Linked DNA regions of Homo sapiens. The protein of the gene in region 3 purifies or fractionates together with the protein of the main gene of each other region. This does not show direct contact. Each region holds a gene or a part of one and is shown on either strand. Other genes may lie near its edges.

Region 1 (4,079 bases), on a different chromosome or scaffold from region 3:
GCCAGCCTTCCCTCCCAGCCAGAACCACGCCTGCTGCCCCGCCCGCACACCGCCTCCCTCCCATCTTGGGTAGCCCTGCCAGCAGGCAGGCACAGTCCTTGTCACCAGGGCAGAGGCTGATGTGGTACACACAGGCAAGAGAGTATTTCCTGGCAACTTTGTAGGGGGAGCAGATACCAGTCCTATTCTAGGGATGCTCCCCACTCCTACCCAGCTCAACGTGACTGATCAGCTAGGCCCAGGTGGAATCTGGGACCCTGGTCTGGGCTCTTAAGGGAAAGGAAGCCAGAGTGTATGTGAGGGGGGAGAGTCTCTGATTTGGGATGGGCCTGTGTGGACAGCTTCACAAAAAAAGGAGACAGTGTCCACCATTGGCTCCATAAAGGCTTCAGAATGTAAACAGAGCAGTTCTCTCTTGCCCCTGGAACTTTGTGTGTGTTGTTCCCTACTTGATTGTTCTTTAAAACTTTACTCTGGGATCACCTCCCAGGATCCTTCCTGGACATCCTCCCTCGACCAAGGCTGGTGAAACATCTGGCTCCCAGCGCTGTTGCTTCCCCCCTCAGATGCCTGGAGACTGCAGGGCAGGGCTAAGTCCTCTTCATTTCTGTGCCCAGCATGGAGCCTGGCATCTACTGGGTGCTTCTCATCTGTTTGTTGAATGAAGGAAGTATCCTCTGAACCTGATTTTGGGTAGATGGTGGAGTAAACTGAGCGGCAGTTTGCATACTGTGGGCAGGTGGCAAGGGCCCACAGGCCCACCACAGGATTGGTGACCAGCATTGAGGGGACACTGAGAAAAGTTCTTCAGGCTGTTTCTTCCCAGCCCCGCCACAGGCTATGCTGGCACCTGAGAGAGTTCTTATCCCACCCTGTGCGGAACTCCTGCTGAGCAGAGTGGCTTTGTATTCTTCCTTCCAACTCAGGCTGTTGGTGCACTGCTAGAGGGCTGCTGTCTCTGACACTGCAGTAGCCACAGTCGAGCTTGAGCTGGCTGGTCCAGCAGGGGCTGCTCCGCAGCCCTGGGGCTCAGACCAGAGCAATGCTGTGAGAGTCCTGGTACTGGCCAGTGCAGAGACTGCACATAGCAAGGGCTCAATGAAGTTTACCAAAAGAAAAGAAAGGGGGTTTTGTGGCCTCTGTCCTGTCTGTGTCTCTTGCAAAGGGCTGGCATACTATAGATGCCTAATGAGGGTATATGGACAGAATGAAGTGATTGAACATGTCCATGAACAGGGCAGAGCTCCTGGGAGAGGAGTAAGTATAATCCTGGGGCAGCCACTGGAGCCTGGTCTAGCTAGAGACAGATAGGAAGGGTTAGCTTGGGATTCTGGCTGGCTGGGTAGTGAGTTAGACTCTAATGGTGCCTGTGAAGGGGGGCTTCCTGGAGGAGGGGGTCTGCTGGGCAGCTGTGAAGGATGAATACCATTTGCCAGGGCCAGGCACTGGGGGTCAGAGGGACCAACTCGACAAGAACACTGCAGCAGGAAGACTTGGCCTGTATTCCCAAGAGCTTGGGTGGGTGTTTCCTGGCCTGGTGGGGAAAGGGCCACCCTCCCTGGACCAGCCCATGGGGTCATCCAGACCTGAGTTCGAATCCCAGTTCCACCTATGGCACTGGCTGAGAGACTCAGCATCAGGTGAAGCCCTGGCAGGAGTCCTGCTCTCCACTCATAACCTGGGGGCAGAGTGCCTCCCTGCAGCCACAGGTTATGGGGACAGTCTACCAAAGCTTGGAGGTATGAAAAATGGGTGAGGGAGGCCAGGCGCGGTGGCTCACACCTATAATCCCAGCACTTTGGGAGGTTGAGGCAGGCAGATCACCTGAGGTCAGGAGTTCAAGACCAGCCTGGCCAACATGGTGAAACCCCGTCTCTACTAAAAATACAAAAAAATTAGCCAGGTATGGTGGTATGTGCCTGTAATCCCAGCTATTCGGGAGGCTGAGGCACGAGAATCGCTTGAACCTGGGAAGTGAAGGTTACAGTGGACCGAGATGGTGCCACTGCACTCCAGCCTGGGGGACAGAGCAAGACTCTGTCTCAAAAAAAAAAAAAAAAAAGAAAAAAAAAGAAAATGGATGAGGGACCCACTGCTGAGAGTTTGGTGGGAAGGAGTCTCCCATCCTAGAGGCTGCCTGGCCTGGGTTTGGAGCCCTAGGGAACCCCCTCCCCTGCCCTCAGGCAGCTGTTCACAGCAAGTGGGGAGCCCAAGGCGTGCAGATAGTTGGTGCCAGCAGGAGTGACAGACTGCCCTGGGGACCTTAGGCCCAACCTCTGGGGGTCTAGGTTTGGAGATGTGGTAGGGCCCTGGGTGCCAGGTGGGCCAGTACCCACCCAGGCTGGCCTCCAGCCCCTACACTCTACCCCAGCCCTCTCCTTCACTGCTGGAGCTCATTAGCACTTGAATGGGGGGCGGGGCGGCTTGGGCCTCTGAGTCTCTTCTTCCCACCCCTCCCCCAGGCTTGTCGGGGCTTTGTCTGCAGGAGCAGGCAGGGATAGAGCTCCCACACTAAGGAGTGAACAGGGGTCCAAGCTATAGCTGACCCCCTCTGCCTGCATCCTGCCCAGTTCTGCTAGGCTCAGCCCCTGCCTCTCACGCCAGTGTCAGTGCAGCCAACATGAGGTCATACCTCTAGGGTAGGAGTGAGACTAGGTCCTTTAAGGGATACCTCTGAGCTGAGAGACTAGGTGAATCAGGGCAGCTGGAGCTCAGCTGGGGGCATCCCAGGCGGGTTGGGGAGAGGAACCCCAGACAGAGGGCAGAGCAGGTGTGAGGACAGAGAGAATGAGCCGCGCTGCTGTGGCAGGAGGTGGAAGTCAAACCAGTTGCGGGACACAGGCTTCCATGTCAGAAGCCCTGAGGCAGCATCACACCACCCACTATGTGTCAGAGCCTAGGCTGCTGGATGGGGCCTGGGGATGGTCCGGGACCCCTTTGGCCCTGGGCAGCTTGTCAGCGGTTGGCCCTGGGTGGCCTGAGAGGTAGGGTCACTGAGTGCCATCACTGATGTCCCAGGCCCTTGAACATCAGTTTGCCTGGCAAGTGGCAGCAGGTAGTGCTGAGGGTGGGGTGTGGTCAGGTCCCAGCAAGGTCCCTAGGCCTCCAGCACTGCAGGGGGTGGGGCAGTAGGTGCACTTGGGGCTACTTGGGCCACAGGCAGACACACAGGTCCTGTATACTCTGCCGTTGATCTTAGTTCTTGGTCCCTGGCTGTGACTCTCTCAGTCTGTCTCTAAAAGCCACCCATTCACTTGGCGGGAACAGGATGGAGGAAGCTTTGTCCACCCAAGCTCTTAGCCACTGAGGAACCAGGGACTCCCCCCACCCCACCCACAGCAGAGGAGGAGACTGTCACCCCAGAGCCTGAGTGCTGCCTCCCCTACATCCCGTTGTGCTGTGGGGGGAGGCAGGACCGGGCAGATGGGGGCAAGGTACAGGCCAGGGAGTAGTCTCATCTTCCCAGCATCTCAGGCCAGGAATCCCAGCCTAGGAGTTGAGCGAGGAGGGGAAGGGGTCAGCAGGTTCTGGCCAGGCCACTGCTGATACACCCTGCCTAAGAGTGCTCTGCAAGGTGCTTTGGGGAAGGCAAAGGATTGGGCCCTTTGATGGTGTCCCTGGTACCTGATGCTCTCAGGCAGCCCTTCCCTCAGCTACAGGTGCAGGGTGGAACCCCGTCTGCCCAGCCCCACCCAGCCCTTCTAGCTTGAAGCTCTCGTTCTTACTAAACCCCAACCCCACCCTCACCCTGATGTTACTTCTTGGGGCTGTGGCTGCTCTTGGTGGCTGGGGAGGAAGAATCTTTCTGGAATAACCAAACATTTGCTGGGCTGGTTCTTCTGTGCCGGCCTCTGTGCACATTTACAAGGCTTGAAAGGCAGCACCACACCAGTCTGAGCAAAGGCCTAAAGGTGGGGTCATCTCAGCCTTGTTGGGGAGAAGATATCCTTATGGCTTGGAGGAATCTGGGGGCTCCAAGGCTGCTGACAGCCTCAGGATATGCAAAGGAGGTGATGGCAGCACCTACTGTGTGTGCCCCCGGCGGGAGGAGGAGGTAATGAAGTCTGCACGACATGGCA
Region 2 (4,079 bases), on a different chromosome or scaffold from region 3:
CTAATTCTCAGGAATGTCACCTGTCAACACCACTGTCAATCACATTCTCCGGGGTGGCTCCACATAAGGGCATGAGAAGCCAGGGCTGGAGCCTGGCTGGGGATGTTTCCAAAGGGAGGGCTGGGAGAGCACCTTCCATTCCAGAGGCCTCTGGGAAGGCCCAAGAGGAAAGCCCTGGCGGCCCCAGCCTCACAGCCAACAGCAGTACAACGAGCCTCCTGCTCTTTCTCCCCTTCAGTTTGGCCCAGATCCCAGAGAGGACTGGTCGGCCCTTACTCACGTGGTCAAACACTTGACTCTTGGTGGCGTTGTACTTCTGTGCGATGGCATCGGCCACGGCATTCGGCCCCATGAATAGTGTGTTCCAGTTGTGAGAGCTAAGAGGCAGAGGCAGAACAGGGAGATCAGACCGCAGCTGGATGAGGGGAACTCGTTCTCAGACACGAATCCTGTAAGAAATGGGCTCCTAGGCCTGCCTATCTACATGCCCCCAATTTCCCTATCATGGGCTACGTATACAGGGCCTGAAGACAACAAGACGGATGATGACAGGAACCATCCCTAACAGTGCTTCATCTGTGTCAGGGACTAAGAACTTCACATACATTCACTCATTTAAACCTTACAGCACCATAAAAGTAAGGCACTACTATTATTCTCCCATTTTACAGATGAGAAAACTGAAGCTCGGTAAGGTATGAACTAAACCCATCAGGAGTCAGAAGACCCAGGTGGCTTAGAAAGGGCAGGGTGAGGGTGGCAGAGGGTTGGGGTTGGAGCTCAGTGGTTTCAGGGGCACTGAGGACCTGGCACTGTTGGCTTTGTCCTGGGCCTCCTTCTTCTTCTTGTAGGACGACGATCCCAGGGCACTGGCATCCTCGCTGGCTTCCTTCTTGATGGTAGATGGTAACACGTGGAGCATCCTGCCCTGGATGGGAATGACGGGAAGGGAGTAAACAGAAGCCTTGCCTGTAAGCCCTGCTTCCTGCCGAAGGATGTTGGCTTCTGCCACGAGTAAGCTGGACCCAGCACTGAAACCCTGACCAGAGGGTGGGAGGGAGGTCAGGTAGAACGTGGCCACTCTCTTCCCACCTGACACAGGATCCTGATGTCGTGAGGGGGCCACCTGACACAGCTACACACACAAAACTTCGATCAGTGTATAACCCCGCACCCGCAGCCCTCTCCCCGCCTCTCAAGCCTGCATCGCATCCTGTCCCTGCACCAGTGAGTAAGAATGTGAGGTCCATGCCGGTGGGGCCAGGTCTGGCCTGATGGCAACAAGGGGATCAAGAAATCATGAATAAATCAATGAATGAATGAGAAAAGGAAAAAGGGTGATGATGAGGCAGCCTGGGGCTTGAGGATGTATGCTAAGTATATTACTTGGTAACACTGGGAAAAGAGAAGTTTCTTTTATTCCACTGTGGCCATTTTAATAGGTCCCTGTCAAAATTCTTTTCTTCTTACTCCTCTTCTAAGGTGGTATCTATAGAGATGGAGAGCAAATTCATCCATTCAAGGAGTATTTTTTCAGTGCCTGCTAAGTGCCAGACAGAGGTGTAGGTGCCACAGATCAGTGACCAGAACAGATCAGACCGTGCCCTCACACGACTTCTTACTCTCCAGTGGCTTGAGTGAGGCAGTGACTTAGCATGCCATTGCACATTTTCTTAGGCCCACAAAGTGGACGCCCGTGTCCACACACATACACACACACACACACCAGCCTTTCCCGACCATGTGAGCCCCACAGCCTCCTGGCCAGCCCAGGACGGGGCCTCACCTGGAATACCTGCCCGTCCACCTCCGAGTAGGCCTTCACAGCGTGCTCAGGGAACATGAAGGTGATGAATGCAAAACCCTTGGGTTTCTTGGTCAGGCTGTCGATGGGGTAGTGGAGCTCAGACAGGGGACCTGAGGACAGGAGAAGTGTCGGTCTCTGGTAGGCCGCAGCCACTTGGCCCCAGGGAAGAATGTGGTGAGCACCAGCTGTGAGCCAACCTCACAGGTCATGGGTGTCATTTCCCAGTCCCCTACGTGTGTCTATCCTAACAGCAACAATACCTGGGCTGGAGCCCAGCACCACCACCTATTACACATGAAGCTTGCCTTGAGCAAATCACTAAGCCTCCCCATGCCTCAGTCTTTTCATCTGTAAAACAGCACAACAGTACCTAGCTCATGGGCTAAATGCGTTCATGCGTGCATAGTGCACTAAACAGTGCCTGCTAGAGTTAGTGCCAAAGAAGTGTCTTCCATGATGATATTAGCATCATGCTCAAATTAAAGCACACCCTTTCTGCATTGGTTTCAACTCTGAATGCCAGGGTGTGACCGCGTCCCCTCTCTGGGTCTTTCCTTCCCAAATGGACATTTGCAATATATCGACAAATGCTTCTCCCCCTCAGCCCACCCATGAGGTGTAAGCCGGGATGCCAGCCTGTGTGAAGGATATGGTGAGCAGACTGGTGAATGGAACACACAGTTCCACTGGGGCAGGCCCCAGGCTTGGAGGTCAGGTCAATTTTCCTGATGGCATGCTCCACTCAGGGCATCCTTACCCTGACAACGGGGCCCACATCAGGTGTTCAACCTACATCTCCAATCCTCCACAACCTACAGCTGGCCTCTGAATAGACATGGGGAGACACTGCGGGGATCTCAAAGGTATCAAGACCTCCCCTCATCCTGAACCCTCCCTTCCTGCCCTTCAACAATGGTAACTCCACAAACAAACACAGCCTGTTGTGACCAAGCTGGACTACAGGCCCTCAAGCCCATGGCCTGAGAAATAACAGCAACAACAACACTAACCTTGACACTATCAAATCTATTTGGTGCTCAGCTTGGATAAGAAGACTTTACATAATTAAGAGTTCAGATACGGAGGAACGCCGTGTAGGTATATTCATCAGGTGAAACCTGTACAGTTACTCAATTCCAATACCGAGTGGCATGACTTTGGACAGCAAGGGAGTATCTCAAAAAAGTCATCCGAATTGCTTCAATTCTGAATTTGGAGAAGTTAGAGAGTTCAGACAGCAAAGGATGCCAGTGATGCTATTAATACCTTTTACTTCCTGCCCTGCGAATCCCTGCATTCATCATGTCACTGAATCCTCACAGCAGCTCAGGGGTACTTGGTCCCATTTTACAGATGAGAAAACTGAGGCAAGAGATGTGGAGTCGTGTGCACACTGGGACTTGAACCCAGGACGTCAGAGTGAGAGCCCGGCTCCCATAGCCGCTGGGCTATCCACGGCCCGGAGGCCACACCCCTACCATATTTGGAGAAGAGCTTCTCCAGATCCTCCTCGGTGCTGGTGTAGGGCAGGTTCCGTACAAAGAGCCTTCCGGATTCGGCCAGGTCCTCCTCCTCTTCGTTCTCCCCGAGTATCCGGCCTTGCCAGGATTTGGTGGTATTCTTTGGTGCACCCTTGGTGGTGGGGACGTTCTTTTCCCTGAACACCTCGATGTAGCGCCCACCTGCAATGAAGAGGAGTCAGGGCTCCAGGGGGAGGCCTAGAACTTGCCAGCAACTCCTTGCTGGTGACTCCAAACTCTTCTCTGCTGCCTTCCAAAAAACACAATCAAGGTGGCAGATGACAGCACCCAACACCTGCCCTGTCACCTGAGGCGGCAGCATAAGCCAAGCCAACACCAGGCCTGAACCCAAATCTCACTCACCCTGCCAGTTCAGCTTCAGCCCTGGAGGGAGCCTGCCTGAGTTATCCCAGACCACGGTGATGCATTCTCTAAACTCCGGGCTGTATTCTCTGGCACTGCTTGCTGTTCTGCCTTGGGAAGGGTCTTAGGTGACAGCCCAGCCCTGGGTACTTACCTGCTGATGATTTATTTGCACGCATAGCCCCTGTGCCTGATTAGGGTGCTATTATCACTGTATCCTGCACAGGCACTACTAGGTGCTCAATAAATACCCACCTCCTGACTTGCTAACAAGATTCCCAAGGCTCTCCATCCTTCTCTAACACAACTCATGTCTTCACTGGGGTTGATGGCTGGATTCAAATCACTTGTCTTGGCCAGGGATTGGTCAAAGAATACATCCCTGGGTA
Region 3 (4,079 bases):
GAATGTTCATGGCATGTAAAGACCATGGCATAGTTGGATATCAGCCAGTCATATAGAAAAGCCCATCCTGAATTTTCAATTTGAGGCCCCAGGAAATGTGGTTGGGTGAGTCATGGTCCTCAAATTATCTTCACAAGGAATCTGGTAGCTCAGACTGCAGGGCAGGGCACTGCTGGGTTCTCCCCGTGCCTGGCCCCTCAGAGCCTTGATGTCTGGGGCCTTCCAGGCGCATGGATGGAATTACCAGGCAAGGCCAGGGTTTAGGTGAGCAGGGTGGGTTTTCTCAGCAAGAGGAAGAGTTCATTTGCTCTCTGGCACAAGATCTTGACTTTGATTCTTTGTACTGTTGTGACCTCCAGGTTTTCAGCCAGGTTGTGCTCAGGAAGGACAGCAGGAAGGTATCCTGTGCGATAGGGGAAGAGAGAAACAAGCTAACTGCCCTGGTGTTGTGTGTGCTGCTGAGCTGGCCCTTGGCTCCCTTCTCAGCCTTCAGACCCCACTCCACCCCTTCATGGGCCTTGACTCCAAACAAATCAAGTTGCTTCCTCTCCCCTTCCGTATACATTCTATGCCCTATACATTCTTGCCTCCGAGTCTTTGCTCTGTTTCCTCTACCTGAATACCCTTTCTCCAAATTCTACCTTTTTTCTAGACCTGATCCTCTGCCTTCTCTTCCAGGAGGCCTTCCTGGGTTCATCCAGGTAGCTAGAGTCTTTCCTTCCTCCTGCACTGGGATTATTTTGTGTCTTACAGTAGAGCTACTTGCATACATGCGATAAGACTGTAAACTCTCGGAGGGAGAGAGTTGCCCTTGCTCTTTCTTGAACCTCCTGGCTCCCTGCCCCGACAGCTCTGGGGAGTGAGCATATAGAACTCTCTGCTGGGCGCGGTGGCTCACGCCTGTAATCCCAGCACTTTGGGAGGCCGAGGCAGGCGGATCATGAAGTCAGGAGTTTGAGACCAGCCTGGCCAATATGGTGAAACCCCATCTCTACTAAAAATATAAAGAGCATGGTGGCACGCACCTGTAGTCCCAGCTACTTGGGAGGCTGAGGCAGAAGAATCGCTTGAACCCAGGAGGCGGAGGTTGCAGTGAGCCAAGATTGCGCCACTGCACTCCAGCCTGGGCGACAGAGCGAGACTCTGTCAAAAAAAAAAAAAAAAAAAAGGACTCTCACATGGTATTCTCTAGCAAGAAGCGTACACAGTAGGCCTGCTCCTTAAGACCATCCCACACGCCCGGGGTATGCAGATGCCCTGCGGGGTTTCTCCTGGTGCTGTAGGCCTCAGGGGTGGGTGCTTCCTGGCTTACGTGAGAACTCCAGGGTTGGCAGCCTCCCCAGGTCTGTTCCCTGCTGAGCCTGGTCTCCCCTTGCTCTCTACGCAGCTCGATGACTTGTACTTGATCGCCATCTGCCATCGCCGGGGCATCAGATCCCTACGCGACCTTACTCCGGAGCACTTGCCGCTGCTCAGGAACATCCTCCACCAGGGGCAGGTGAGTGGCTTCACCAAACCACGTGGAAGCTCAGAGAAATTAGACTCAGATTCCAGTGTGTTCCTGGGCCCCTTTCCTCACCTTTCCCAGAGTCCATCTTGGAGAGACTTCTCTCTGGATGCCAGTCTTGGGGACCCCATTAGGCTCTTGAGGTTGAAGAGCAGGGCTCTTTGTCCCTGGTCCTGCCACCTTTCCTCACCCTCACACGCCTTCCTCGGCCTTTCTCCATCTGGGATGCACTTCCACCCCTCACCCCATAGACTCTGGTCCTTAAGTCCTGGCCCCTCCTACTCCAGGATCACCTGTCTCTCTCATGACAACCATGACAACCACATCATGCCAGAGTTTCTTGGGAGTATGGGCACATGACTTCGATATGTGTGTACACGTGTGTCTCCTTGTCTAGATTGAAGACAGGCTGAATTCTGTAGCACCTGGTGTTCTGGGATACTTTCTCTCTGGGATATTTGTTGAATTGAATGAAATTATCGGGGCTCTAAACAGAGCCCAGGAGCACGGGGAGATGGGGGAAGAGTGTCTAGAATCTTGGGTGTGGTCCTGGCCTGACATTTGGACCCTAACCAGCTGAGTGGCCTGGGGCAGGTCACTTCACCTCCCTAAACCACATTATCTAGATGGATCCCTTCTAAATCCACCATCCTAAGGGGCTGGGTCTGAGTCTTTTTTCCACTCTGAAATGTGATGCTCTGCCTAACACGCCAGAGCTAGCAGTCACAACGATGCCCAGCCAGGAGAGAGGTTTGCCCCTTTTTGACCAGTGATGCTTCGAGGTGTTAATGCAGACCTGGAGGCAAGGCTCTGCCCATACCCAGCTTCCCCTGCTGCTGGGCCCCGATCTATCTTCCCTCCTGCTCACCCACGGCACCACCCCTTGGCTGCCTTTATCTTTGTGGGGTGACTTGTTCAGATCCTGAAGCAGTCTCTGGATATTACAAATGGCAAAGAATGGTGTCTTTCTCTTGGGGAGATGCCAGGCCAACACTTTGACCTGCCCTAGCAGCTCAGACAGCTCCACCCTGGCAGACAGACCTCACTTACTCCAGGAAGCCCCTCGGGTGCCTTGGCCCTGGTCTCGCCCCGCTGCAGGGATTCCTGGGGTGAGCTCCAAATGCAGAACACAGTTCTGGGGTATATACTGAGCCCACTGAGGCCCTAGTACTTTTCTCTTCACCTCTGACCACCTCAGGGATTTGCCCACAATGGAGATGAGAGTCTCCGCTTAATTCTATGCCTCACAGCCTCCTGAAGGTGGAGGTTGGTAGAAAAAGACCCACCCCTGAGCAAGGTGGAGGTGGGCAAAGGGAGCCAGGGCCAAAGTCAATGCTTTCCTCTTCTGCAAGGAGCCCGCTGAGACTTCGCCAGGTCTGTGTGGGAGCAGCCCCTCCCATACCCCTTCCACAGTCCCTGCTCTTTCACCAAGTTCTCAGCATAGCCCCATCCCCAACTTCATTGTTTCCAAGCTCCACCCTGTGCTATGCTAAAAGAGAGAATGAGGCTTCCTCCCATCCACTTCATGACTGATGAAATGCTTCTAAATCATGAAAGTCCCCATAGTCTTGGGAATCTGGGGCCTGTCTGTAGACACTGGGCCTTCCAAGATTCCCAGCAGCAACTGTTTGAGGAAGCCAGTGTTTTTTCCACGTTGGGGTGGGGAATGCTGATTGAGGCCGCTCCCCACTTCTTTTGGGAGAGTCTCAGCTTTGCTGCTGTCACCTGCACTTGTGGATTTCCTAGACTAGAAGACAGAGGAAGCTGAAGCAGACAGCAGGTAGAGAGCTGTTTGGAGGGTTTTTGTGAGCTGTCCCAGGCCAATCCAGGATTCAGATGGGAGGAGGGTCTAGGTGGGGACATGGCGCCGGGCCTCAGGCAGCACGGTGACTCCTGACCTGCCTGCCCCTGTCTCATCAGGAGGCCATCCTGCAGCGCTACCGGATGAAGGGAGACCATCTGCGAGTATACCTGCACTACCTGCCCTCCTACTACCACCTGCATGTGCACTTCACCGCCCTGGGCTTCGAGGCCCCCGGCTCAGGCGTGGAGCGGGCCCACCTGCTGGCTGAGGTGATCGAGAACTTGGAGTGTGACCCTAGGCACTACCAGCAGCGCACGCTCACCTTCGCCCTCAGGGCTGACGACCCCCTGCTCAAGCTCTTGCAGGAGGCTCAGCAAAGCTGAATTAACTCAGGCAGAAGAGCACAGATGTGTGGGATTGGGGGAGGAGTGGGGACAAGATTTTTTATCTCCAAGTGAATTTTCTAAAAATGTATTTTATACCGGCTTATTCCTAGTATTGAATAAACTAGCGGGCTCACTCAGTGTGGACAGCGTGGCCTGGGAGGCAGACAGATGGTGGGGGACAGTGGGTGGGTAGAACCTGTGGGAAGGCCTTGAGAATGGTGGAAAGTCTCCAGGTGGTGGTTTCAACTGACAGGTGGGAGCTGCCCTGGAAGGGTGCCGAGGGCCTTCTCCAAGCCCCAGGGCTCACCGTCCGTGGTGGCTTCCTTCTCCCCACTCTGTGCCTCTCCTGTTTGTACAACTTCTTATTCTGCTCCTCCCCATC
Region 4 (4,079 bases), on a different chromosome or scaffold from region 3:
ACCAGCAGCCCTGGAAGAAGAGGACCAGCAGCCCTCTACAAGGGAAGCCAGCCCAGGTTTCATGGGTCACCAACCAGCACAGTGTCACCAGTTCATTCTTTCTTTTTGTAGTTGTATTTGTTTTTTAATTTAGTATTTTGAATAGGTAACACATTCTCATGGTTCAAAAATAAAAATGATACGAAGAAAGTTTTCCTTCCTACCCCTCTCCTTGAACTAGACTATCATAAATTTTTTTATGTTCGATTTCAGAGTTTCAGGGTTTTATTTTTTATTTTTTTGTGGAGATAGGGTCTCACTGTGTTGCACAGATTGGTCTCAAACTCCTGTCCTCAAGCAGACCTCCCGCCTTTGTCTCCTAAAGTGTTGGGATAACAGGCATGAGCCGCCACGCCTGGCCAATTTCAGAGTATTTTTAAGACTCTCCATGCAAACGGAAATACAGATATATAAGAGAGTGTCTTCCCAGCCTTCCCTCATGTGGACGAACCATTACATATTTGACCATTTCCCTATTGGAGGGCATTTTGGTTCTTCCTGCCCTCGCTGTCCCCAGTGTTGCTGCGCAAATCGACTTTTCCCCTAGTCACCTCACACTCACAAAGATGTATCTGTGAGATTTAGTTACCAGAGGAGGCAATGCTAGGGCCCCAGTGCAGGCATCTATGATTTTGACAGATCTTGCCAAATTGCCCTTCAGAGGGGCTGTTGCAGTTCACACGCCCTCTGGCCATGGAGAAGAGCACCTTCTTTTCCACAAAATTTGCCAGTAGAATATGGTATCAAATTTTTGGAGCTTTGCCAGTCTGATGGTTGGAAAGAAACAGAATCTCAGCGTTGCTTTATTTGTATTTCTCTTGTGAATGAGACCACACAACTTTCCCTATGTCTATTTGTATTTCTTTTTCTGTGAACTGAACATTTGGATCCACGGCCTGTTTTTCTATTTGGTTATTGGCCTTTGTCATATAGTTTCTAAGAGCAATGTAAACATTGGAGAGATTAGCCCTTTGTGGTAGGAGTTGCAAATGTTTCTCTGAGATTGGCATTTACTTTAGTTGTCTGTATGTAATATTGGTTTAAAGCAAAAATGTATTATCTGCTTCTATTTAAATATTCTAAAGCGGCAGATGGAGAGAGAGGAAAAAATGTCTTTCTCACATCTGCCATCCACTTCCACTGCTGGTGTGAGTTGTGTATCTTTTCAGATGTTTCTCTCTGTATCTACAAACATACATATAATTTTATTCTATTTTGTTTTTAAAGGAATAGCATAATGGTATTCATAGTTTATAGCAACTTGCTTTTTTTCTTTTTAATGCATCATATTATGGATAATTTCTCAAGTCAGTAAACATGGGTCTTCCTCACTCTTTTTAATGGCCCATGAGTAGATCAGCATTTATTTAACCGGTCCCCTGTTGTGAACACTTAGGTCTTTTCCTGATGTGCACCCGAACACTGCAGAAATGAAAGTGCTTACATAGGGCTAGGAGTCGGGGTGGGCAGAGAAGACCACTGTGGGGTTGATTCCTTACAGGTTGAATGGCATGGGCAAATGGCCTTCCAAAAGCCCTTTCCACTTACCTTCCCTCTGGCCATGGGTCCTTTCACCACCCAGTGCAAAAGTTTCTTCCTTATTTGTCAGGTTGGGCTGGTACCTTACCTTAGCCCCCTTCCTCATCTGGAGCAGCTTCCAGGATTGTTTTTCTTATGTTGTGATTGAAGGAATAATACTGCGTAGACCCTCTCTGATGTCCTAGGATGGCGGGGGATGGGAGGTGCATGTGCATCTCCTTCTGTCTCTTCATGCCTCTGCTTAGGAGGCGCCAGACCTGTAGAGAGGTGGACGTCAAGATGCCAGTTGTCCAGGGTCTTCGTTCACCCCTTAATGAGCACCAATTTTGTTTGTGTCCTTCGTAAACCCAGAGAGCCCACTCCAGTTCTACGTGAACTACCCCAACAGTGGAAGTGTTTCTGCATACGGTCCAGGCCTCGTGTATGGAGTGGCCAACAAAACTGCCACCTTCACCATCGTCACAGAGGATGCAGGAGAAGGTACTGTGTGGTTTACGTGTTTATACGCCTCCAGCTGTCCATTTGGAGGGTGAAGTGGACACGGTTCCAGGGTGGCTTTTAAAAGTGAGACAATCGAATGGTAGTATTTGTCTTGTCTTTTCTCTCGTGTAAATCTGTTTCTTCTTTAGAGCCGCTTCGTCTTCTACCCAGACAGACATTTTTGAAGTCCTTTGTGTTCTAACTGAAATCAGATTCATGCTATGAAATACTTTATGTGACTTGTCTGGAATTTAAGTGTGTTTTGGTTGGTGATGTTTTTGTTCTTGTTGCACATGTATCCACAAGACCACATGACTTACTGAGTGGCTCTTTTTGATAAAGCTGTGTGCCCATTCCCGTGGTATTCATGGATAATCCCAAATCTGTGGTTCTAATGGGATTTCCGTGATGGCAGCCAGTGCCTGATGGGCAGGGACAATCCACCTCTGCCCTCCACCACCCACCGTCTCCTATGTGTAATTGATGTACACGGCTCCTTCCTTTTCTCATCCCATGCATCCTGAGAGTAGAGAGAGCTCCAGGGTTACTTGCAGTGAAGAACTCAGATGTTTGGGGTTTCTTCTCAGTGGGTGTTTTTACTGCGTGGACTGCTTCATTCTGACAGATGTCCCTTTGCCCACAGCTCACGTGGAGTGCGTCAATCCATTGTCCCCAGCATCAGGGCTGCCCTGGATGAGTTGTTAAAAGGAAACTCTTAAAACAAGGCAACTCTCTCCCTAACACCCCTGCATCCCTGTTCCCACTTGTAGGTGGTCTGGACTTGGCTATTGAGGGCCCCTCAAAAGCAGAAATCAGCTGCATTGACAATAAAGATGGGACATGCACAGTGACCTACCTGCCGACTCTGCCAGGCGACTACAGCATTCTGGTCAAGTACAATGACAAGCACATCCCTGGCAGCCCCTTCACAGCCAAGATCACAGGTAGGGTTGTCTGGCTTCTGGGGTCTTCCTCGTGGGAAGTATGGCTGCCTCTGACTGCCACCCTCCTTATCAGACCCCTGGCAGCAGGCTAGACGTCTCTTTGAGTTTAGGTTTCACAGAGACTTGTTGAGGAGGAGCAGGGGATGGAATGCAATTTTGGATTAGCTAAATCCTTCTCTTGCTGATAATCCAGGAAAATGCGAGAGCTAGTATTTGGAGCACACTTTTATTGTGCCAGTGTGACTCTAGGGTGCAAAGAGAAAGCTCTCAGATGGAGTGTTCGAATCATACTTACTGCAATAGTGCATGAAGTGCATGAGCTTAGACATGCCCTTCAGCGTCACTACTAGGTAAATTTTCTGCTATCCCTTTTACAGATGGGAAAACTGAGGCTTGGCAAGGTAGTGGTGTAGCCAAGTTCACATATAGGTAAACAGATCCAGGTTATCAAATTCCAAAGCCCATGCTCCTCACCTTGCTGTGTTCAGGTTATGCTTTCAGTGGGTTATAAGGAAGATGCACAAGGCAGATCCTGTTTCCCCACCGTATTTAGACCTGTCTGTGAAGCAGCCAGTAGTACTGTGTGGAATGTGGTCATTGTTTACCTAGAAATGCCCACAGCCATGCCAGGCAGGTATGAGGTGCCTTCAACTAACAAAAATTCCTATATTTTATTTTATTTTTGAGACAGAGTCTCACTCTATCACCCAGGCTGGAGTTTTAGTGGCATGATCTCGGCTCACTGTGACCTCTACCTCCTGGGTTCAAGCGATTCTCCTGCCTCAGCCTCCTGAATAGCTGGGATTACAGCACCCACCACCACACCCAGCTTATTTTTGTATTTTTAATAGAGATGAAGTTTCACCATGTTGGACAGGCTGGTCTTGAACTCCTGACCTCAAGTGATTCGTCTGCCTCAGCCTCTCAAAGTGTTGGGATTAGGCACCTGGCCCAAAGATTCCTTTAAAATGTGGTCCATGAGGACTCAAGTCTCTAGGTCCTGCCAGCTTCTTGTCTTTGCTGCAAGCAGGCATGAATCCCATCATTCTTCATTGGTTGGGTCTACTCAGTGTTCAA
Region 5 (4,079 bases), on a different chromosome or scaffold from region 3:
TTTGCTGCAGATCTACATTATTCACTTCCACTGCTATATAGAATTTCTTTTAAAAAATGATTTTATTATAATTTTCTTAAAATGGACTCTTTCAGTTATACATTTATTTTGCTGGAATTTATGTACACTTCACAAATATTATTTAATGGTCATAACAGTTCTGTGAGGTAGGAACTGTTATTACCAATGACCCAGGAAGTGGTGCATCCAGGATTTTACCAGGCAGCCTGGCCTGGACTCCCTCACTCAGCCTCCATGCTTTGTGGAGTGTCCAGAGAAGAATGCTTTTCAGATCTTTAATATGTTGAATCTGTGGGCAGAATATCCAACTAACGATGATTTCTTTTTATAGGAGGTCGTTATGTTAAAGTCTGGGACATGTTAAAAGGAGGACAATTGCTAGTATCTTTGAAAAATCATCACAAAACCGTGACATGTTTATGTCTAAGCAGCTCTGGACAGAGGTTACTCTCTGGCTCACTGGATAGGTTGGCATTTTAATTTTTTTGTATATTATTATTAGTGTACACCTGTTTACTGCTTGAGGAAATGAGTTATTTCAGCAATATTTGTGATAAGTATACAGATAATGATTTCCAGGAGAAAAAAACCTGTTGAGTTGAAAATAGTTTTGACCTTTTGTTTACATATAGCTACTTCTTTTCTTTTCTTTTTTTTTGAGACAGAGTCTCACTCTGTCACCTAGGCTGGAGTGCAGTGGTGCAATCTCGGCTCGCTGCAACCTCCGCCTCCCAGGTTCAAGTGGTTCTCCTGCCTCAGCCTCCTGAGTAGCTGGGATAACAGGCACGCGCCACAATGCCCGGCTAAGTTTTTTATTTTTAGTAGAGACGGAGTTTCACCATGTTGGTCAGGCAGGTCTTGAACTCCTGACCTCGTGATCCGCCCACCTCAGCCTCCCAAAGTGCTGGGATTACAGGCGTGAGCCACCACACCCGGCCACCCATAGCTACTTATTTTCTCCTTTGACACAATTTGTTTTAACTTGTATACTTAAACAACATTATTGAACCATTTGAATGATAATCTTTCAAATAATGTTATTCTATAAACCATCTTTTAAAATCATTATTGTACATTCATATATTTTGAAGTTTTTTTTTTTTTTTTTGAGACAGAGTCTTGTTCTGTTGCCCAGGCTGGTGTGCAGTGGCACAATCTGGGCTTACTGCAACCTCTGTCTCCCAGGTTCAAGCGATTCTCGTGACCCAGCCTCCCAAGTAGCTGGGATTACAGGTGTGCAGCACCATGCCTGGCTAATTTTTGTATTTTTAGTAGAGACGGGGTTTCGCCATATTGCCCAGACTGGTCTCGAACTTCTGGCCTCGTGTGGTCTGCCCACCACGCCCTCCCAAAGTGCTGGGATTACAGGTGTGAGCCACTGTGCCTGGCCTGAAAAGTTTTTTAAAAATTAGATAAATTAATTTTTTTTTTTTTTTTGAGATGACATCTCGCTCTGTTGCCCAGGCTGGAGTGCAGTGGTGGGATCTCAGCTCACTGCAACCTCTGCTTCCCGGGTTCAAGCGATTCTGCCTCAGCTTCCTGAGTGGCTGGGATTATAGGCGCTTGCCACCTTGCCCGGCTAATTTTTGTATTTTTAGTAGAGACAGAGTTTCGCCGTGATGGCCAGGCTGGTCTGGAACTTCTGACTTCAGGTGATCCACTCACCTTGGCCTCCCAAAGTGCTGGGATTACAGGCATGAGCCACCACGCCTGACCTAAAAGTTAGATAGCACATTTTATTTAGCCTAATATCTAATGTAAAAATAAAATATATATTACATATAAAATATAATTTCAGTATGTAATCTATGTCAAAATTATTAAGATACTAGAAATAAATTAAGCATCTAAACATGTGCACTATGATACAATAATCATATTTTAGGTTGGTACAGTGGCTTACACCTGTAATCCCAGTGCTTTGGGAGGCTGAGGTGGGAGGATCACTTGAGGCCAGGAGTTTGAGACCAGCCTAGGGAATATAGTGAGACCCCATCTCTACAAAAAATTAAAAAAATTAGCTGGCCACAGTGGTACACACCTTTAATCATAGCTACTAGGGAGGCTGAGGCAGGAGAAGCACTTAAGCCGGAGTTTGAGGTTGCAGTGAGCTGTGATAGTACCACTGTACTCTATCCTGGGTTACAGTGATACCCTGTCTCTAAAAAAAAAAAGATAATATTTTATAAAAATTACTGTCTCAGTTTTTAAATTAAAATTAGATAAAATAAAAAATTTAGTTTCTCATTTTCACTAGCCACATTTCAAGTGGTCAGTAGCCATGTGCAGCTAGAAGTATGGCACAGTTCTAGAATTTACATGATTTATTATTAATTTTTTTTTTTTTTGAGACAGGGTTTTGCTCTGTCGCCCAGGCTGGAGGGCAGTGGCATGATCTTGGCTGACTGCAACCTCCACCTCCTGGCTTCGAGCGATCCCCTCGCCTCAGCTTCCTCAGTAGCTGGGACCACCGGCACGCGCCACTGTACCTGACTCATTTTTGTATTTTTGTTGAGATGGGGTTTTGCCATGTTGCCGAGGCTGGTCTCAAACTCCTGAGTTCAACAGATCCTCCCACCTCAGCCTCCCAAAGTGCTGGATTACTGGCGTGAGCCACCGTGCCCGGCTTACATGATCTATTTTTTATTATTTTATTTCCATATTTTCATTTTTTTCTGCTCTTATGAAAAACTTTAGTTTTCAGCATGTTAATTAAAAAGTATACAGTCATCTCTTGGTAACTGAGGAGAATTGGTTGTGGATGCCCAAGTCCCTTATTTAAAATGGCATATTTGCATATAACCTACACACATCCACTGTATACTTTAAATCATGGCTTGCTTATTTGTAATACCTAATACAATGCAAATGCTATGTAAATAGTTGTTACACTGTATTTTAAAATTCTGTATTGTTTATATATTTATGGATATTTTCAATCCATGGTTGGTTGAATCTGCAGATGTGGAACCTGCCATAAGAAGGATTGACTGTACATATTTTAAAAGCTAGAAAATATTTTTAATACAAAGGAATTTTTTATGTAAATACATGGCAAGTTTACACATGTTACTGAAATCATGTTACTCGGCAATTTGGGACTTGATTCTTAGGTATGTTCCTAAAAGCTAAGTGTAAATTGGCTCTATTTGTGGTGGTTTCAACCAAGAGTGATTTTTGTTCCTCAAGGAACGTTTGACAATATCTTGAGAAAGTATTGTTTTTTATCACAACTCATGGTACTTACCATATAGGGGATAGAGGCCAGGAAGGCTGCTAAACATCCTACAATGCACAGAACAACCCCCACAAAAAAGAATTCTGTGCCCCAAAATGACAGTAATTCTGAGGTTGAGAATCCCTGATCTTTGGCTTCATGTGTACTTTCTTTCTTTCTTTTTTTTTTTTTAATTTATTTTTTTAGAGACAGGGTTTCTTCAAGTTGCCCAGGCTGGTCTTGAACTCCTGGGCTCAAACAATCTGCTGTCCTTGGCCTCCCAGAGTGCTGGGATTACAGGTGTGAGCCATCACACTTGGCTTTGTGATGTGCTTTCATTGATAATTTTTTCTTTTTTTTTTTTTAAGATGGAGTTTCACTCTTGTTGCCCAGGCTGGAGTGCAATGGCGCGGTCTCGGCTCACCGCACCTTCTGCCTCCTGGGTTCATGTGATTCTCCTGCTTCAGCTCCCAAGTAGCCGAGATTACAGGCATGTGCCACCATGCCCGGCTGATTTTGTATTTTTAGTAGAGACAGGGTTTCTCCATGTTGGTCAGGCTGCTCTTTAACTCCCGACCTCAGGTGATCTGCCCACCTCGGCCTCCAAAAGTGCTGGGATTACTACAGGTGTGAGCCACCGCACCCGGCTAATACCTTTTCTTTACTCCCAAGTTTGATCTTCAGATGACAGTGGCTCATGGTCTGTCCTTCTGTTTTTTTTTTTTCCTTTTTTTCTTTTTAAATTTTTGAAACAGAGTCTTACTCTGTGGCCCAGGCTGGAGGGCAGTGGCACGATTTCGGCTCACTGCAACCTCTGCCTCCCAGGTTGAAGCAATTCTCA
Region 6 (4,079 bases), on a different chromosome or scaffold from region 3:
GGGCTCAAGTGATCCTCCCATCTCAGCCTCCCCTGAGTATCTGGGACCACAGGCAAGCGCTACCATGCCTGGCTAATTTTTGTAATTTTTGAAGAGATGGGGTTTTGCCATGTTGCCCAGGCTGGTCTCAAACTCCTGGGCTCAAGCAGTCCACCCACCTTGGCCTCCCAAAGTGCTGGGATTACAGGCATGAACTACTGTGCCTGGCTTTTTTTTTTTTTTTTTTTTTTAAACAAAAGCATATTACTGGCTTCTTCAGTTGTGGCTCATTTCAATAACTATTTCTTGTAATATGTGTCTTGGAACTAGCTTATCCTTGGAAGTGTTTTTCTCACTATATTGTTAGAAGGTAAACAAAGTGGAAAATGCATAAATTATGTGCACTGCTTCTGTACTTTAGAACTGTTAGTTGACTGGTAGCATTACTGAACCTTGAACCTTGAATTGGCCTTTTTAGGAGCCCAGTCACTGTGAACTCTTGAGCAAATGTGTCCTTTATCCCTGCAAGGACTATTTGAAAAGAGACCCAGGAAGGGCACAACTGGCTTGAAGTGGGAAGTAGTGAAGGAATGAGGTACATAGATAAAATCTATTTATGAATGACCTTTCAGGAGTTAGCCTACAAAATATTTTCTAATTTTTTCATGTATAAAATGCAAAGGGGGCTGGGCGCAGTGGCTCACGCCTGTAATCCCAGCACTTTGGGAGGCCAAGGCGGGTGGATCATTTGAGGTCAGGAGTTCAAGACCAGCCTGGCCAACATGGTGAAACCCTATCTCTACAAAAAAAAAAAAAAATTAGCCGGGTGTGGTGACAAGTGCCTGTAATCTCAGCTCCTTGGGAAGCTGAGGCAGGAGAGTAGCTTGAATCCGGGAGGTGGAGGTTGCAGTGAGCCGAGATCGTGCCATTGCACTCTAGTCTGGGCAACAAGAGTGAGATTCCATCTCAAAAAAAAAGCAAAGGGAAGGCACAGATGGAAGGAATAAGGAATTCTGTGGGAAAGCATCTTAGGGCATCTTACCACTAAAGTGAATTAGCTCTCTCCTAATCCTGTCCTGTGCTTGGATGTGATAACTATTGAATGACAGTGGTAAGGTTTCATACAATTTAGTCATATGTAACAAAATTCAGCTTTTCTCTTAAACACTTCACTGTGTATGTGTTTAAGGAGTGAAACCTACATAGATAAGGTGTGGAGCTGGCGTCCTTGAGTTCTGTTGTGTTTGATATGTAGCCCAGAATTTCATTTACTTGTTAAGAATCTACCTTGAGAGTGGTAGGGGGCTCTTACTTAATTTTTAATGCAAGCATGTCCCGCTATTCTAATATGATTAAACTTTACAACATCTACATATCTTTTAAATCCATAACTCAGTGACATTTTAAAGTTTAAGGCAACAGTAGAGAAAAGTGAAATTTTAAATACCACTGTTTTCAGGATGACTGTATGAGATCTTCTTGACCTATTAGGTAAGGTCTGGTCAACTTCTTATGGTAGCTTTTCCTTAAACTTTCCTGGTATTCCTACTGCATGAGAAGGTGTCCTTCCTAAAGCTAATGTTAACAAAAGCCTGATTTGTAGCAAATAAACATGGGTGTCCTGGCTTTCTTTTCTAACAGCAATCAGAAACGGAGACTGTTCATCTGTTTATCCCAGCTCTATCAGTCGGTGCCATCATCGGCAAGCAGGGCCAGCACATCAAGCAGCTTTCTCGCTTTGCTGGAGCTTCAATTAAGGTACTGTTCTACCAGCTGTGGTTCTCTGGTTCTTTAAGTAAGTTACAGAAATATGAATCTTCTTGCCACTTTATAATTTGAATAGAATGTAAAAGACACTGTTAGGGTTACATAAGGATATGAAGAAACCCCCAAACAACAGTGGCTTACACCAAGGAGGCTAACTTCTCTGTGCAGAAAACACAGTTAGGAGGTGAACATCCGGGCTGGGTGTTGGCTCTGCCCCCACCAAGTCCTTGGACCTAAGTTCCTTCCAAGCCACCTTCCCCAGGTACGGCCTTGGTCCCTCTTGGTTCCAGATTGACACCATTCAGTGCTCCAGGAATCAGGTCTGTTGCCCAGCCAGTAGGAGAGGAGAACATAATAAAGAGCTTTTCTTCTAGGGAGGTTTCTTGTTAGCTACTGTGGGATATTTCTACCTATATTTCCATTGCCCAGAACTTGGCCAGACGAAGTTGAAGGGGCAAAATACAGGCTATGCACAGTCAGCTAAACATTTTGTAACTACAGAAGGTAACATACCAGAGGACAAATAATGGTGTCTGCCGTAATAGATAACTGTGTGTTCTGAAGATTCTGTATTTTGATGCCTTATTTAAGGAAAATAAAGGTTGGCCAGGTGCGGTGGCTCACACCTGTAATCCCAGCACTTTGGGAGGCCAAAGCAGGCAAATTGCTTGACCCCAGGAGCTGAAGACCAGACTGTGCAACATGGTGAGACCCCATCTCTACAAAAAAAAAAGTGTAATTAGCCAGGCATGGTGGCACACACCTGTAGTCCCAGCTGCTTGGGAGGCTGAGGTGGGAGGAACACTTGAGCTTGGGTGGTTGAGGCTGCAGTGAGCTATGATCACACCACTGCACTCCAGCCTAGGCCACACAGTAAGACCCTGCCTCAGACAAACAAAGGCATGTGGTGTGCAGTATCCTTGAAACTTAGGGTACAGAGATTCCTAGAGTGTGTTGCATACACAGGAAGCCCAAGGAGCCCTGATGCAAGTGGGCCAAGGACCATACTTTGAGCACCACTGGTGTAGTGAACACAGGCAATGGAGACAGACCCAGCTCTCCCTCTAGCTCTGTTAGCTGTGTGATCATGGTCCAGATAACTCAATTTCTCCAGCCTTCCATTTCCGCATTTGTGAAGTGGAGGTAATACTACTTCATCAGGACGTGGTGAGGATTAGCTGAGAGACAGCACGTGGAGGTCTCCATTAGGGCCCGGCACAGAATAAGCATATAGTATATGCAGGAGGGAGGCCTAAATTGTGAACCCACAGGAATTGCTGCCTCTCCCTAATTTCCTTCACGAAGGCTTTAATTCTGCATTTCAGCCAGTCACATGCAAATGTTAGGCTGGTTGGCCCAAGATGCCTATCAGTGATACCTGAAAGTATCATAACTTGTTGTTGGGTCTGTTACAGATTGCTCCAGCGGAAGCACCAGATGCTAAAGTGAGGATGGTGATTATCACTGGACCACCAGAGGCTCAGTTCAAGGTATGTGCTCTAGAGTATGTGCTATGTCCACAGGTAACAAATGCACAGGTAGTCCATAACCTGGCGTCTCCCTTAAATATGTCTAAATCTCAGAAAGAGTCAATGGAAATTCTTATCTAAGAGCTGAGTAGAATCACACTCAAAATTATATTTCGAAATTAACCAAAAGTCTTTAATTTTAAGAGTTCTGTACTGGTTGCTGGATTTACCTGTCTCTCAAAGGTTAATTTTGCTTAATGGTTTGTAATCCTATGCTAAGGTGAGACCTTAAAATTTACAAACCTGCCAGGTTAATATGCCTTGGAAACTTGTTTTCAGATGTTTTCCCTCCTGTCCCTGAGATTGCCTAGACTTGAATTAAAATGCCCCCTTTTTCCTTACCCTTGGATTATCTCTGTTAGACCCTGCCCATAGACTCTACAAATCTCTCTAATCCCTGGGATCTTAGAGATAGGAATGGCAGGAGCTCTTGTAGCATTTGTTCTGGTATGAACCATTGCACGTTTAGTGGGATTTGAGGTCTTTGGGGCTGCAGTGTGCCTTTCAATGTCTACTGAGAGATGGTAGAGCTGAGACTTGGCAGCCAGGCTGCTAGTTCAAATCCTAGCTCTGCCATTTGCCTTGTATGACATTGGGCAAGTTACTTAACCTTTTTCTGTAAAACCAGGGATAAGAGCACCTACATCCTAAGGTAGTTTAAGGTTTACACAATATATGAAATGTTTAGAAAAGTGCCTAACACATGGGCAGCACAAAATTAGCGTGCTGGGGGTATTCAACAGACTATGGATGAATCAGACTAAGACCATGCCAAATTCATAAATATATTCCTTTTAGTGTATG
Region 7 (4,079 bases), on a different chromosome or scaffold from region 3:
ATTTCGACTTTTATTTTAGATTGAGGGGATTCATGAATAGGTTTCTTAACATGGGTATGTTGCATGATGCTGAGGTTTGGGGTGCAGTTGATCCCATCATTCAGCTAATGAGCATAGTACCTAAAAGTTTTTCATCCCTTCCTGCGCTCCCTCCCTCCCCCGTCTAGTAGTCCCCAGTGTGTATTGTTGCCATCTTTATGTCCATGAATACCCAGTGTTTAGCTGCCACTTAAAAGTGAGAACATGCGGTATTTGGTTTTCTGTTCCGGCATTAATTTGCTTAGGATAATGGCCTCCAGCTGCATCCATGTTGCTGCAAAGGACATGATTTGGTTCTTTTTTATGGCTGTGCATAATTTTTAACAGAATTCTTAATTTTCAGCTTTTATAGTTGAGGTCCAGGAAGGTTCTCGGAAAGTGTATCTTAATTATCTATCATTTTATTGCAGTGGTTTTGGTATCAGGCAAATTGAGGTTCCAATCTTGGCCCCCTTCTTTACTAGCTCTGTGGTATCTCCAGGTGTCTTCAGTTTTCCTCATCAGCAAAATGGGACCATTATAACTTTTACCTTACAGAGGCGTGTCTGTGTGTGTAAGAGAGAGACAATTAAATAACATTGTACATTAAAGGCACTTAGTGCTGTTAATATTAGCCTACTTTAACTTATTACTTATTATTATTCTTTCTTTGTTGAAATCTAGTTCAGTACAGTTTGCCTCAGATTTAGGGGATGTAGTTCTAAAAATAGTCTTAAATGGCATATAATTATTTTGTCAGAATAGGATTCAGGTGAACTCTAAAACCAGCAGTTTATATATCTAACAGTAATAGTATCCCAAGTGAATGGCTAAAGTCAGAGGTCTTTTATTTTCTACTCTGCCTTTATTATGAAGAAGTACATGCAGTTATATTTTTGATGGTGTGTAAAACGAGAATCCTCAACATCCTTTTCTAGAAACTCTTGGTTTTTGAGTACTATTTACTGCTGGCCCTGATTTTTTTAAAACAGCCTCATTTGTATTTTCTTTTCTCAAGCAAGCTCTGCTCACAGAGGAAGTGGTTGTGGCTGGCAGAGCGCTTTCTGAATGTTTAGGGTTGGCTGATTTCTGTGGCATCAGCACCTAAAACTGTTCTTGCTCACTGCGCTTTAATGGCTGTCGTCATCAGCATCTTGGCAAAGAAGACAAATGGTCTGGTTGCCTTAGGACAGAACTAGAAGTTCGGAAGAAAAAAGTCTGTGCTCTCAGCTCTGCATTCTGTCTGGCTGGGAGTTAGAAAGCTTGTCAATTGGTTCTGTCTCTTATATTCTCTCTCTGCTAAGAGTGAGCAAGGACATTTGACTTCCCCACTAGATGCAGGGTGAACCTTCTTTCCCTAGTGTTAGATAGAGGTTATGGAGGAAGCCACATTGTTAAGTAACATATACCTGTCTGCATTAATGCAAAGGTAGCTTTTCTCTGCTTAACATCAAAAATTCTAGTTGGGTGTTAGAGATCAACTATCAGTATCTGGAATATGTTTTGCCCCGGACTTAAACCTAATGTCATTGTTTATCATTTAAGATTAAATTGTAATGTGTTTTTCCCCTGCCCCCTTTTCCCCATTTTATTGTTTCCTTTAGACTTCAGGCCCGCATAGCTCATAGGATACAAGAACTGGAAAATCTGCCTGGCTCTTTGCCACCAGATTTAAGAACCAAAGCAACCGTGGAACTAAAAGCACTTCGGTTACTCAATTTCCAGCGTCAGGTAATACATTTTCCCCAGTGAATCTGAGATGTAGGAAATAAATGTAATTGTTCCTAAAGTGTTATCTGTGTTGCCTTTAGTCTATTCAATATTGTTACAAAGATATAAAGATATAAATATAGTAAAATAGTGAATCTTTTAGACCAACAGCTTACAACTAAAAATGATGAAGATGAACTGCTTATTATTCTGGTTTTCTCTTCTGTATATGGGAAAGAGTTTTTCCTCCTGTACTATGGGTTACAAAGTCAGAGTTATGGCGTTTTGTTACCATGGATGAAAAACCTTGGGAACAAGTGGGGTAGCTCATGTTTGCTTTTATGACTCCAAGGAAAAACCAGAAGGTAGTGGATTGGAGCTTCTTTGTAAGCACAGATGTAAAGTGCTTGCCACGACTGTGAAAATAATTTTAACAAATATGGTAGCCACGCTACTGAATTAGTGGTTCATCATTTATAGAAATACATAAAGCAATGTCTTATAGCTTATTTATTCACCGATGTCTAAGTTTGGAGTGTTTGATCACATCAGGCTCATGTATTGACTAATCAGTAAATTATCTGCTCTTGTAGTTTACAGCAGTTATTAAAAGCCAGTATAATGACCTATTTTCTGATTTCTAAATTAGTAAGAGACAAGTGGAATGAGTTAGAGCTAATTTTCACTTTGGCGAGTTTTGCCTTGTGGACTGAAAAGGTTCAAGTTTGCTAGTCCGCAGATTGCCTCACTAACCCAAAGGGGATAAGGAACGTTTCATTGTTAGTCAGATGGGTTTGTTTTGTTAAAGTCTGGAACATGCGAAATGAATAATTAATGAGTCAAAGTAGTTTGGAAGTATTGACTTGGTTTGTTGGAGGATGTGACTAAAATCACAGGCCACTCCAGTTGCTATTGTGGTAGGAATTTGGGTGTATATTTGCCTTACCGGCTATAATCTCACAGATGGACATTAGTGGTGGGTAGGTGCTACTTGGCTCTTGGTTTGTGAGAGTAGATTTCAGCTTAAATTTTAAAAAGAAAAGGGAAAATTCTCTGAGTTCTGTTTACTTCTTTCTTATTGGTGACCTCATAAGATGAATTAATAAAGTGCTGGATAAAATCTTACTAAATGAATATTAACCAAGTATATTTTCCGGAATATGTTTATGTTCAAATTAGCGTTGCCATGACGGACTCTTATTGATTTCTGATTTTTGTTTGATATTATTTTAAAAATCTGTTATTTATGAAGCTTCCTAATTAAATTAACTGTAACTAATGATATTTCAGATGCAGTGGAATGATTATTTAATGTGTATTCTCCAGTCCCTACCCCCTACCACCACATAACATGCAATACAGATAAAAGTATTACATTTGTGATCTGAAATAAGTTCATGATATAATATAAAATGTAGATCTCTTGGAAAGAAGATCATTATTGGAGTGGGAAGAAGCCAAAACTCATATTTCCCATCCTTTGTATGAGACTATGAATTAACGTTGTTTGAGTACCTGCTGCTACCACACGTGAAAGTAATTCTTTTATTCTTTTTTTGGAGCATCATTAAAATTAATCTTTAAACACAAAGAGAATGTTAACATGACACTTAAAACAAAGCGGAAAATTTAAAAAGCTTATTTAGCTAATTGGTATCATTAGAATAATTAGAGAAAATGAAGTTATTTAAAAGGCAAGACAACATCTTTTCTTTCTTTTACTGTTACAGTACTATAATTGCTTTTGATTTGAATTATTTGGGGAGAAAAATCTTGTACCGTTCTTGAAAATATTGCATACATTTGGCATGATTTTAGTTCCTTCATTTAATACAAACCAAAGGTGATTGAGAAGCTTGTGGAGATTCCCCGCCCCACTCTATTCCATTAAATGCAACCGCGAGAAGGCCAGAGTTCAGGAACCTAGCTTCTGTTAGGGAAGGCTGTCTAACTGCTCTCTTCTTGACAGCTGAGACAGGAGGTGGTGGCCTGCATGCGCAGGGACACGACCCTGGAGACGGCTCTCAACTCCAAAGCATACAAACGGAGCAAGCGCCAGACTCTGAGAGAAGCTCGCATGACCGAGAAGCTGGAGAAGCAGCAGAAGATTGAGCAGGAGAGGAAACGCCGTCAGAAACACCAGGTTCTTAGACCCTGGGCTTTGCTCACCCTCACTTTGGCAGAGCTGTCCAATGAATTCATCAAATGGGGTCAGAATGACTGAAAAATGGACCCTTGTGGGTGGTGGGGACATCACAGAACAGAACGGTTCCTTGACATGTACATAATCCAACCACATCATTTTATAGACAAAGACGCTTAAGCCAGGACGTATAAATGACTGCCCAAGG

The links.
Region 1: the proteins of DCPS (region 3) and GNAI2 purify together in Homo sapiens (affinity purification with mass spectrometry, with the first as the bait; one large-scale study listed by BioGRID). This does not show direct contact.
Region 2: the proteins of DCPS (region 3) and RBM19 purify together in Homo sapiens (affinity purification with mass spectrometry, with the first as the bait; one large-scale study listed by BioGRID). This does not show direct contact.
Region 4: the proteins of DCPS (region 3) and FLNB purify together in Homo sapiens (affinity purification with mass spectrometry; 2 studies listed by BioGRID, with this or other methods). This does not show direct contact.
Region 5: the proteins of DCPS (region 3) and UTP15 purify together in Homo sapiens (affinity purification with mass spectrometry, with the first as the bait; one large-scale study listed by BioGRID). This does not show direct contact.
Region 6: the proteins of DCPS (region 3) and IGF2BP3 purify together in Homo sapiens (affinity purification with mass spectrometry, with the first as the bait; one large-scale study listed by BioGRID). This does not show direct contact.
Region 7: the proteins of DCPS (region 3) and SMARCA2 purify together in Homo sapiens (affinity purification with mass spectrometry, with the first as the bait; one large-scale study listed by BioGRID). This does not show direct contact.

The regions. Positions count from the first base shown.
Region 1 is NC_000003.12:50,238,875-50,242,953, forward strand, and holds part of GNAI2 (guanine nucleotide-binding protein G(i) subunit alpha-2), read left to right. Parts: intron 1-4,079. UniProt on the Homo sapiens protein: Guanine nucleotide-binding proteins (G proteins) are involved as modulators or transducers in various transmembrane signaling systems.
Region 2 is NC_000012.12:113,945,548-113,949,626, forward strand, and holds part of RBM19 (probable RNA-binding protein 19), read right to left. Parts: intron 3,490-4,079; coding exon 3,286-3,489; intron 1,918-3,285; coding exon 1,787-1,917; intron 929-1,786; coding exon 807-928; intron 378-806; coding exon 281-377; intron 1-280. UniProt on the Homo sapiens protein: Plays a role in embryo pre-implantation development.
Region 3 is NC_000011.10:126,341,920-126,345,998, forward strand, and holds part of DCPS (m7GpppX diphosphatase), read left to right. Parts: exon of another isoform or gene 1-403; intron 404-1,387; coding exon 1,388-1,498; intron 1,499-3,427; coding exon 3,428-3,694; 3' UTR 3,695-4,079. UniProt on the Homo sapiens protein: Decapping scavenger enzyme that catalyzes the cleavage of a residual cap structure following the degradation of mRNAs by the 3'->5' exosome-mediated mRNA decay pathway.
Region 4 is NC_000003.12:58,143,992-58,148,070, forward strand, and holds part of FLNB (filamin-B), read left to right. Parts: intron 1-1,929; coding exon 1,930-2,058; intron 2,059-2,828; coding exon 2,829-3,002; intron 3,003-4,079. UniProt on the Homo sapiens protein: Connects cell membrane constituents to the actin cytoskeleton. May promote orthogonal branching of actin filaments and links actin filaments to membrane glycoproteins. Anchors various transmembrane proteins to the actin cytoskeleton.
Region 5 is NC_000005.10:73,572,137-73,576,215, forward strand, and holds part of UTP15 (U3 small nucleolar RNA-associated protein 15 homolog), read left to right. Parts: intron 1-352; coding exon 353-488; intron 489-4,079. UniProt on the Homo sapiens protein: Ribosome biogenesis factor. Involved in nucleolar processing of pre-18S ribosomal RNA. Required for optimal pre-ribosomal RNA transcription by RNA polymerase I.
Region 6 is NC_000007.14:23,316,796-23,320,874, reverse strand, and holds part of IGF2BP3 (insulin-like growth factor 2 mRNA-binding protein 3), read left to right. Parts: intron 1-1,620; coding exon 1,621-1,737; intron 1,738-3,161; coding exon 3,162-3,236; intron 3,237-4,079. UniProt on the Homo sapiens protein: RNA-binding factor that may recruit target transcripts to cytoplasmic protein-RNA complexes (mRNPs). This transcript 'caging' into mRNPs allows mRNA transport and transient storage.
Region 7 is NC_000009.12:2,052,975-2,057,053, forward strand, and holds part of SMARCA2 (SWI/SNF-related matrix-associated actin-dependent regulator of chromatin subfamily A member 2), read left to right. Parts: intron 1-1,622; coding exon 1,623-1,749; intron 1,750-3,697; coding exon 3,698-3,871; intron 3,872-4,079. UniProt on the Homo sapiens protein: ATPase involved in transcriptional activation and repression of select genes by chromatin remodeling (alteration of DNA-nucleosome topology).